Regions from separate parts of the Homo sapiens genome. Here region 1 is linked to region 2. A link means that fine-mapping ties the variant in region 2 to the expression of a gene that starts in the linked region. Tissue or cell type: coronary artery. Region 2 holds a variant in brackets; the other region holds the start of a gene. All regions are shown on one strand. Distances are from middle to middle.

Evidence for each region. PIP is the estimated chance that this variant, and not a neighbour inherited with it, causes the effect.
Region 1: CDRT4 starts here. The variant in region 2 is fine-mapped to the expression of CDRT4 in coronary artery (GTEx, PIP 0.98).

What each region holds. Positions count from the first base shown.
Region 1 is chr17:15,465,679-15,470,678 of GRCh38, reverse strand. CDRT4 (CMT1A duplicated region transcript 4) reads left to right here and starts at 3,058. Exons shown (of 4, transcript NM_001204477.2): 1 at 3,058-3,219. All of the region lies in intron 4 of TVP23C-CDRT4 (TVP23C-CDRT4 readthrough), which reads left to right. It overlaps CDRT3 (CMT1A duplicated region transcript 3), which reads left to right. Exons shown (of 1, transcript NR_146601.1): 1 at 1-368.
Region 2 is chr17:15,554,401-15,559,663 of GRCh38, reverse strand. It overlaps TVP23C-CDRT4 (TVP23C-CDRT4 readthrough), which reads left to right. Exons shown (of 6, transcript NR_037924.2): 2 at 4,300-4,382. It overlaps TVP23C (trans-golgi network vesicle protein 23 homolog C), which reads left to right. Exons shown (of 6, transcript NM_001135036.2): 2 at 4,300-4,382. Among named protein-coding and RNA genes, the nearest start is that of TVP23C, 6.5 kb to the left of the region's middle. The variant C/T (reference allele first, on the strand shown) is at 2,122.

The DNA of each region.
Region 1 (5,000 bases), 89 kb after region 2:
CTTAAGAAGTTTATAGACCAATTTGCATCGAAGTTTGGTTTGTCAAGACCTCTCGTGGCCTTTGTGTTCCTCAGAGCATCCTCTGTGCTTTGGCTTCTGAGGCCAATTGCCTGTTCGTTTCCTACCTCCTTTTGCGTTCCTGAGAGATAATTGGATTGGCCCAGGTCCTCTTTTTTGTTCTAGGCTGTAGGTCAGAGGTCAGCCGGTGGACTACCTGGTTTGATCATATGTCCTCCTTTGACTTACTCAGCTGGAGGTAAAGGGCCAAGGGGACCTCATGAGGAAGGGGTGATGTGTGCAGCTGCTCAACACCCTGAAAGGCAATTTGGGGACCAAGAGGGAGAGTTAATAAACTGACCTAACGCATTGAGTTTTTTCTGTGTTTTTTTATTTTTTCATATAAAACTTGAGCGTGGAGGCCAAAGGGATACACCTGAGTCCATTTGGCCAGTTATTTGGGGTTCTGGGGCAAAAGGAAGAGCAGCCAATGTAAGTTGGGTAGGGGTGGGGGCTCTGGGCAGGCTCACCATGGATTTCAGGGGGATTCTCAGGTGGGGAGAGCTGCCTCGTGGCCCCTTCTTAGTGGTGTACGTTCTGGAATTTGCACTTTGATTTTTCTACTTATGAATTGTGTATCCGTGGGCAACTTACTGAACTGTGTGCCTCAGTTTCATCACTTTGTAAAATGGGGATTAGAGTAGTGGAAACTGCCTCGAAGGTATTCCTGGGAGTTTTGAGCCCAGAATAAGCTAGTGTGTGAAGAGTTGAGAGCAGTACCTGGCATGGGGTGTGTGCATGGGTGACCTGGAGCCAACTCTGGAACCCCAGCTTTTTAATTCATTCTGCCTTGAATGAAGGGGCTGGCTGCACTTAGTACCTGCCTGTGGGGAGGTTACCAAGCAGCCCAGTGCTGAGGCCAGCAAGATACACTGAGGGACCCCAGAAGCACTGAGGTCAAGTCCCTGAGTCCCATGGGGCATCTCTGGGTTGGTCAGCACTGGGGTCACATTGCATGTTTGCTCAGCTTGCCCCTTCTCAGTGCCAGTAGAAGCCCATGGTGAGCCCAGATACAGGATCTGTTGACTCACGGGGAATTTGCTGCCCACAGAGGAGGGAGAAATGCACCTCCCCAAAGCCAACAATCAAAGGCCAGGCAAGCCCTGTGGGAGGAAAATAACTTGGGCTACAGATTTTCTTTTCTGGGCTTGGAGTCTTGCCATGGACAACACAGAAACAGACATGATTAGCATCATGGCTTCCGGAAACACTGTGAGTGCGCACTAGCAGGTGGTGGGCTGATGTCACTCTCAAATGGCTTTCTCGAGTCCGAGGGTCTGGCTCCCTGCCGGGCCCTGGCCCATTGCACATCAGCGCTAGGTATAAGCAGCTCAGAGAGTCACTTCAAGCTGCAGAAGACTTCTGGGGTGAGTCTTTGGAGGTTCTTGTGGAACCACAGGGGAGGTCCCCTGCTCATCCGCTACACTTCACACCTGGCCTGTGCACTCAAAGATGTCCACTGTCTTCCCCAGACTTGCTGGGAGAGAGAGCAGAACCTTGTCAGACTGGCCCACCCCAACTCCCCCCCATCCCCCTCACCTGTGCATTTCCCGTAGCATTTCCAGACGCCCAGGCTGTCCCGCACCTCCGTGACTTTGCTCAGATCCTTCCCTTGTCTAGAACTTGTTTGAAGAACTGAATGGAGATACTCAGGGCTCAGGGACACTGAGCCACAAAATAGGGGCCCATGGAAAGGTTGAAGGCATGGCTCCGCTGACACGGGAGCTCCAGAGCGAGAATGAATTCAGGGAGTTTAGGGCTGGAGTTGAAGAGGAACTAGAGCCTGGAGAGAGGGGAGGATAGAGAAAGGCTTTTTGAGAACCGCAGCAATGAGGGCTCTGCCTGAGGCTCTAGGTACTGACTCGTGGGCAGTGAGGAGAGGTAGATTTTTGTTGGGGATCCACTTGATGTATGTTTTCTTACAACTAAATGATAAAACTGAGGCTGAAACACAGGTGTTTTCTGCCTGGCCTTTTTCTAGAATGCACCTCTCTCTGAAGATTATAGAGAACTATGAAGAAAAGGAGATCGTGGGAAATATATGATTGAGTCAGTATGATTTGGAGGAAGCTCAAGTGCTTGCTGTGGTTGCAGAGAAGTGAGGGGACTTTACATTCCTGGCTGGACAGGTTGAACTCTGGGATTGGAGAGGTGGTGGGGGAGTGGAGAGGAGCAGAAGGAACAGACACAGGGAGAGACATTTCAAAGGATTGTCAACAGGGCATGATGATAACACAGGGAGAGCAAGTCCAGCCTGTCTCCTGGTGCTGCCCCGAGTTGATGACTGCAATTAAACTGCCAGACTTTACAGCCTGCTCTGCACTGTGTCCTCCTGGCATCTTGGGGACTTTTTCACGGTTGGGGCCACAGGGGAGGTTAGAAGCTGCTCGCTCTCTCCATTGCCAAGCACTGGCCGGTCAATGGAGTTGGGGAGAAGGAGGCTAATTCTCAACAGCCTGTTAGTGACAGCCATTCTCTCTCCAGCTTATCTAAAGAGGATTTTATTTCAGAAGAAGGCTGAGAGCTTGTTAGAAAGGCAAGTTCTTGGGCCCCACCCCACATATACTGAATCAGAGACCCTGGGAGTGGGACCCAGCAATCTGTCTTAATAGACCTTCTAGGAGATTCTGGCACTAAGGAAAGAGACCACAGGTCTTGTCTATCTCTGTAGTTGGCTGCGTCTGGGCCAGAGTAACTGCTTGTTGAAATGATCAGAGATCTCAAATGAGGTCATGCATGTTGGGGTGTGTGTGTGTGCATGTGTGTGTGTTGTGTATCTTTATGTGTGTATGTGTTTGGTCTAGGGTCCAGCACATAGTAGGTGTTCACTCTTGGGGGTGGGAATAATCACTCTAATGTCCGTGTTTGAGGACTGCATTGCTGGTGACCGCTGAGCCTGCAGAGGAGGAAGAGAGCAGGGCAGAAGATTCAGGAGGGGGTGCATGGCAACTTCTGATGTCACAGTGCCCCCCTTCACTCCTGACTTCTGGCTCATGGGTCACTTTGGGGCAGGGGCAAGAGGATGGTTAGCTGCAGCAAAGAGAGAGCCAAAGAGAAGTGGGATTGAGAGCACAGGGGACAGCTGGAGACAAAATATAAACGCCGGGCAGGGGAACAGCCAAGATAGTGCAGGAAGGATGGGGAATCACAGAAACTTCTCAGGTAACAGTCTGGGCCAGAACACTGGGTGTCCCCAGAGAGGGAAGTCGAGGGTGAAAGTGAAAAGGCTCACACTCAACTTCCAGGAGAAGGTCAGGTCCTTCATCAAAGAATAATCCTGCCATTAAAGGGTCCCCAGAGTCCCCAGCATTACTTCCCTTAAGTGGATCCCAATCCTGGTCACCCAATCCCCTCAGGACTTTGTAAAACGTACTGATGCCCAACCCTTGCCAACAAGCTCGTCCCATTCCTAGGATTCTGATTTACTTTGTCTGCAGAGGGCTTGAGCTCAGGTATGTCTATAATGACAGCCAGGTGATTCTATTGTACACTCAGGGCTGACCACTCTACTTAAGCAAAACACACACACACAAAATATACCCCCGTTCCCCCCCATCCCCTGGGGGTGATGGGTTGGGGATGAGGGTGATGATGTTCCCACAGATGCATTACCTCTCCACAGAGCTCAGGACCAAAGGAATGTTTAGCCAGAACTGGTAAATACCTTTAAAAAATTATTAAGCACCTATAGAAACCTATAGGGACAAAGGTGACTAAGAGGATTTTTACAAAACAATAATAATCAAGTCACTTATTTAAAAATAATTAATCATGCTTGTAATCCCACCACTTAAGGAGGCTGAGGCAGGAGGATTGTTTGAGGCCGAGAACTCAAGACCAGCCTAGGCAACATAGCAAGACCCCGTTTCTACAAAAATAAAAATAAAAATAAATTAGCTGGGCATTGGTGTGCACCTGTAGTCCCAGCTACTCTGGAGGCTGAGGCAGGAGGGCCCCTTGAGTCCAGGTGTGTGTCTGTATTGAGTGTGTGTCTGTGTGAGCCCAGGAGTTTGAGGCTGCAGTGAGCCATGATCGTGCCACTGCACTCCAGCCTGGGTGTCAGTGAGACTGTCTCTATAAAAGTAAAAATTAAAAAAAGTAATTTAGAACAAGGAATAAAAGACACCAGTGAATGAAACAAAAAATTAGTAAGAAACCTTGCGATCCATGAATGCACCTTGGTGTAGATAGGGGTGGGGAGAAGAGAACAGAAGAGACTCGTTTCTGCAGATGAGGCAGCCCTTCCCTTCTCCCCATCTGGGTGGAAGCTGGCCCAGCGCCCAGGCTCCCACCCCAGGCAGTGTTTCTGGAGGCCTGAGCCCGAAGCCCACTGTTTGTGCTGGAAGCTCTTGCTTTACACTTGTTTGAGCTACATTGAGTCAGTATGAGAGAGGCAGATAGGTGACGCAGGTTAAGAACATGGGCAGCCGAGTCCCTGGGTTCAAATCCAGACTCTGTCACTTGTCAGTTCACCCACTGGCCTGGGTCAGGGAGCTGACCTGGGTCCCAGGTCGCAGGCTTCCTCCAGGCTTCCTGGTAGGCTCTGCCCTCCCTCCCCCTCCCTTTCCCTCCCTCTCCCTCCCTTTCTCTCCCTCCTTCAGGGATGTCTTCTAAGTGCTTACCACTTGTGCAGGGCACAAAGAGGGTTTCCCCACCAGCTGTAGAATGCTCAGGCCCTGTAACAACTGGATCTGCCCCCAGGTGCAGCAACTCTAGGATCCTCTGTTGCCCTCCTGCTGCTACCACCCTCAGGGGTCTGGAGTCCTCACGATGCGCGCTGCATGTCCTCCCCACGGTGGATGGCCAGGCTCCCTCCCCCTCTTCCCTGACCACAGCAAGAGCCCCTTGGCTGCCATATTGGAAGGCGTTAGCATGCGTGTCTGTGCATGTGTAGGCATATGTGTCTCCGTGTTTGTGATATGACTGTGTGTTTGTGTGTTTTG
Region 2 (5,263 bases):
ACTTCTTGGCCTCGTGATTAAAGTAGTTTCCTAACCAGTCTCCTAGCGTTGTGCTTTTGTCCCTCCTTCTTCTCCCCTCCCCCTCCAGATTTTTACTACAGTAGCCAGAATTCTCTTTCTAACAGGTGAGTCAGAACATGCAGTCTTACACTTAAAACACTCCAATGGATCTCCCTTTCAATGCTTTTTTGGTTTTAGCATCTTAAAATGTCGTTTAGCATCTTAAAATGTCCAAAATCAAACTGCTGATTTTGCCCCGAAATCTTTTGTGTCCATGGTCTTCCCCATCTTAGTAAATGTAACTCCAGGAGTGCAGAGCTATTTGTCTTTTTTTTTTTTTTTTTTTTTTTAAATCTGTACCACTTACAGCAGTACCTGGCACTTGGTAGGCACTCAGTATTTACTGAATAAATGAGAAGAAATCAGTCTTTCAAAGAGCAGGGTAAGAGAATAGTGTTCTAGGTAATATGAACCATAAGTGCAAAAGAACCTGACGGGGCCCAAGTTTGGCATGTTTAAGGAACTGAAAAGAAGGCCAGCCTGGGCATGGTGGCTCATGCCTCTAATCGTAGCACTTTGGGAGGCTAAGGCAGGAGAATTGCTTGAGCCCGGGAGTTTGAGACTAGCCTGGGCAACATAACGAGACCCTATTTCTGCAAGAAATTAAAATATTAGATATGGTGGCTTGCAGTACTCAGGAGGCTGAGATGTAGAGCCTGCAGTAGTGACCCCTGATTGTTCCACTGCACTCCAGCCTGGGCGAGAGCCAGACCCTGTGTCAAAAAAAAAAAAAAAAATGGCCAGTCTGGCAGGAGCTTAGGTACTGTATAAATTTCCTGTTGCTACTGCGGCAGTGAAGTCATATGTACTGTTGTAAAGTTCTGGTGGTCAGAAGTCCAGAATGAGGCTCAAGGGGTTAAACATCAAGGTGTGGGTAGGGGTTCTGGAGAATCAGTTTCCTTGCCTGATTCAGCTTCTAAACACCTGGGATCCCTTCCCCATCTTAATGCCATCAGCACAGCCTGTTCAAATCTCTGTCTCTCACCTCTACTTTGCTTGTTTCATCACCTTCTCTCACTGACCCTCCTTTGTTTCCCTTGTAAGGACCATTGTAATCATGTCATCTGACCAGCCTGGGTAATCCAGGATGATCTCTTGACCTCAAGATCCTTAACTTAATCTCATCTGTGAAATTCTTTTTGCCAAGTAAATTTACATATTCACAGGTTCCAGAGATTAGAACCTAAACATTTTTGGGAGGGGTGAGGAGGTATTCAGCCTACCACAGTTAATGAAGAGTGAGTGGCCTGAGATAAGGTCTTAGAGATTGGCAGGGACCAGATCATGATAGGTCATGATAGGGAGTCTGTTTTTCAGTCATAGTGCTGAGAGGTTTCAGTAGGGGAATGATAGGATTTGATGTGAAAAAGTCTCCCTGGCCGCTGGATGGCGATTAGACTGTTGGGATCGAGAGCAGAAGGCCTCAGCTTTTTATTCATAACATCATACGGTGGATCTCAGTCTTGCTGTACGTTATGATCACACCTCAAAGCAATTATATCTGAACCACTGAGGGCTGGACCCAAGTATCAGCCTTTTTTTGTTTGTTTGTTTGTTTTTTAAGAAAAAGAGCATTCTAATTGTAGCCAAGGTTGAGAACCACTAGTTTCATAGATCTGAATCCATTTTACCTTTTCAGCCTTAGCTCAGTAGGAGCTTCTCGCATCCATCACTTACTGCATGAGCTACTTGACCATTTCTTAGACAAACTTCCTGTATTCCCACCTGTGCCTTTCAAAATATACCTAGTCTAGGGAGGCCTACGCGGACTGTCAGGGCCCAGCTGACAAACTCTCCTCCAGAAAGCTTCTCCAGTGCCCTGTAGTAGGAATGATTTGCTTCCTTCCCTGGCTCCCATTTGCACTTAGATTTCTCAGCCCTGATCACAGTCAGCTGTATATTATCGTCTCCTTTGCTTATTTACTCATGCCTTCAACAAATACTGTACCACTTGGCTGAATGCTCTGCTAGACACTAGGATTTACTACAATGCAAAGACAGTCTTGGTTGGGCGTGGTGGCTCACACCTATAATCCCAGCACTATGGGGGGGTGAGGTGGG[C/T]GGATCCCTGGAGGTCAGGAGTTTGAAACCAGCCTGGCCAACGTGGTGAGACTCTGTCTCTTCTAAAATTACAAAAATTAGCCAGGCTAATTAGCCGAGACACACTCCTGTAATCCCAGTTACTCAGGAGGCTGAGGCACTAGAATCTAGCTTGAACCCAGGAGGTGGAGGTTGCAGTAAGCTGAGACCATACCACTGTACTCCAGCCTGGGCGACAGAGCAAGACTCTGTCTCAAAAAAAAAAAAAAAAAACCTTGTCTTCTAGGTCCTCCAGCAGCTTAATCTATATGGAGGTAGGAGCGGGTAGATGTGCAATAAGAATACTCTGAGATAATTGTTCAAATGGAGATTCGTCCAAGTGCTGTGGGAACATGGGGATTTCAGAGACAGGTTTTCAGCTATTTCAGTATTTGAGCTAAAAAACTTGAAGGATGATTTGGTATTTGGTGGTGAGCAGGGCATGGGGAAGGGAAGAGTTTTCTGAGACAACATGTGAAAGGCAGGAGATGGGAGAGAGACCGTAGTGTTCTTAGAGACCATGTAGTAACAGTATTGCTTCAGTGCTCAACAGTGCTCAATGAAGACAGTGTCAGAAGCAAGTAGGGGGCATTAGATTCTGTGATCTTCTATGCTTTATGTGAAGGAGTTAAATTTTATCCTATACTTGTAGGGATGCCATTGAAAAATTTGAGCAGTAGAGTGACATGGTGTGATTTCCATATTGGGAGGATTGCTCTGGGTAATGTAAAGGAGAGGCTGGAATAGAGAGGGATAAAGGCAGGGAGGCTGGTGAGTGGCGCTAGGAGAGGAACAGGATCAGGTTTGTTGTAGTTGAGGGGAATTGCAGTGAATTGAGGTGTGAACCACTCTTAGAAGCCTAAGGTTATGGGGCCGGGCATGGTGGCTCACGCCTGTAATCCCAGCAATTGGGAGGCCGAGGCGGGTGGATCACAAGGTCATGAAATCTCCTGGTTAACACGGTGAAACCTGTCTCTACTAAAAAAATACAAAAAATTAGCCAGGCATGGTGGCACGCGCCTGTAGTCCCAGCTACTTGGGAAGGTGAGGCAGGAGAATCACTTGAACCCAGGAGGCAGAGGTTGCAGTGAGTTGAGGCCACGCCACTGCACTCCAGCCTGAGCGACAGAGCAAGACTCCATCTCAAAAAAAAAAAAAAAAGCCTAAGGTAAAAGGAAGCAATGCTTTGGGAAGGTAGAGGATTGAAGAGGAGATTCAGGATCAGGGTTCTTAAAAAAATCTTTTTTTGCCTAATAAGTGGCCTTGAAGAAGTTTATATGCATATGCTGATTAGAAAGATTCAATAGAGGCCAGGCGTGGTGGCTCAGGCCTGTAATCCCAGCACTTTGGGAGGCTGAGGCGGACAGATCACCTGAGGTCAGGAGTTCAAGACCAGCCTGGCCAACATGGTGAAACCCCGTCTCAACTAAAAATATGAAAATTAGCTGGGTGTGGTGGCACACGCCTGTAATCCCAGCAACTTGGAAGGCTGAAGCAGGAGAATCGTTTGAACCCGGGAGGCGGAGGTTGCAGTGAGCCAAGATCGTGCCATTGTACTCCAGCCTGGGTGATGAGCAAAACCCCATTTCAACAACAACAAAAAAGAAAGATCCAATAGATAGACTTGAAGATAGAAGAAAGTGTAAATACAGGGGAAAATGATGAAACAAATCCCCGAGGAGGCATGAAAAGAAGTTATTCTGAGCACAAATAATTGGTTTAGCCTTGGATAAGAAGAGGAGGAGTTGTGAGAAGGGGTCATGGAACTAAGGATGCAGTCAGATGATTTTGTGAAGGAGCCAGAAACCTTGAGATTATCCCCAGTAGCCTCGGCTTGCTCTGTGACTTGGGAGAGAACAGGTGAGGAGGACAGGTGTTAAGTTGTAGTAGCCTCATCTGCACCCCAGAGTTTTCTCAGATGGTGCAGCCTAGGGGCAGGGATGGAGGAGCTGAGACTTCGATTATTCTCTGGGGTTTTTGCCAGATGATTTGAGGAGGCGGGTGGAGGATCTGCATGTGTCCTTTTCTAGGTTTTGAATTCCTGATGCTGTAACCACATTATTTTATCTTCTATTTTGATGAGTATGCAGCTTTGCATTGCAGTGGCTGTGTAAACACTGAATTTTGTTTTGCTTCTTGACCATTTATTTTTCCAACCAGGATAGTAATGATGACACTGAAGATGTTTCACTGTTTGATGCGGAAGAGGAGACGACTAATAGACCAAGAAAAGCCAAAATCAGGTAGGAGGAGAAGTTGCATGAGCTGTGTTAGTGTCCAGTGTTGTTCTGTATGTATGTCAGTGCTAGCTGATGGGAGTCAAGGCAGAGTTGTTTCAATGTGCTTGTGAATACTGCATGTTGCTAATTTAACATTTAGTGTAAGACAAAGATGACATTTCAGATTTTCTTGTGAATAATTGGCATACTTAATACTGAGTTTTAAAATCAGCAAATCCAATTATTTGAACACCTGTGTTTTTAATTCTGTGCTATTTTCCAAGAATGTACCATTTCTTTATATAGTTTCTGTAGATACTTTACATTTTGATTTATTGTGCACATTTCAAAATCACATAACATTTCTATTCTAAATTTAATTCTCTCTAAATAAATTCACTTATCGAAAGCAAATTCTACTTGAACCCTGCTAAAATGCTGTTTTTTACTTTTCTTTCATCTTTCATGCCAGTCACAAAAGACCACATATTGTATGATTTCATTTATATGAAATGTCCAGAATAGGCAAATCTGTAGAGACAGAAGATAGATTAGCTGTTGCTAGAAGCTGAGGGGTTTGAAGGTAAATGGGGAATGACTGCCAGTGGGTGCAAAGATTCTGTCTGGGGTAATGAAAAGTTGTAAAATTGGAGTGATGGTTGTACAAATCTGTGAATGTACTAAAAACCATTAGATTGTTTACCTTAAATAAGTAAATTGTATGATATGTGAATTATATCTCAAAAAAGCTATTAAAAAACAAGAAACAGGCTGGGCGCGATGGCTCACGCCTGTAATCCCAGCACTTTGGGAGGCCGAGGCAGGTGGATCACGAGGTCAGGAGATTGAGATCATCCTGGCTAACATGGTGAAACCCCATCTCTACTAAAAATACAAAAAATTAG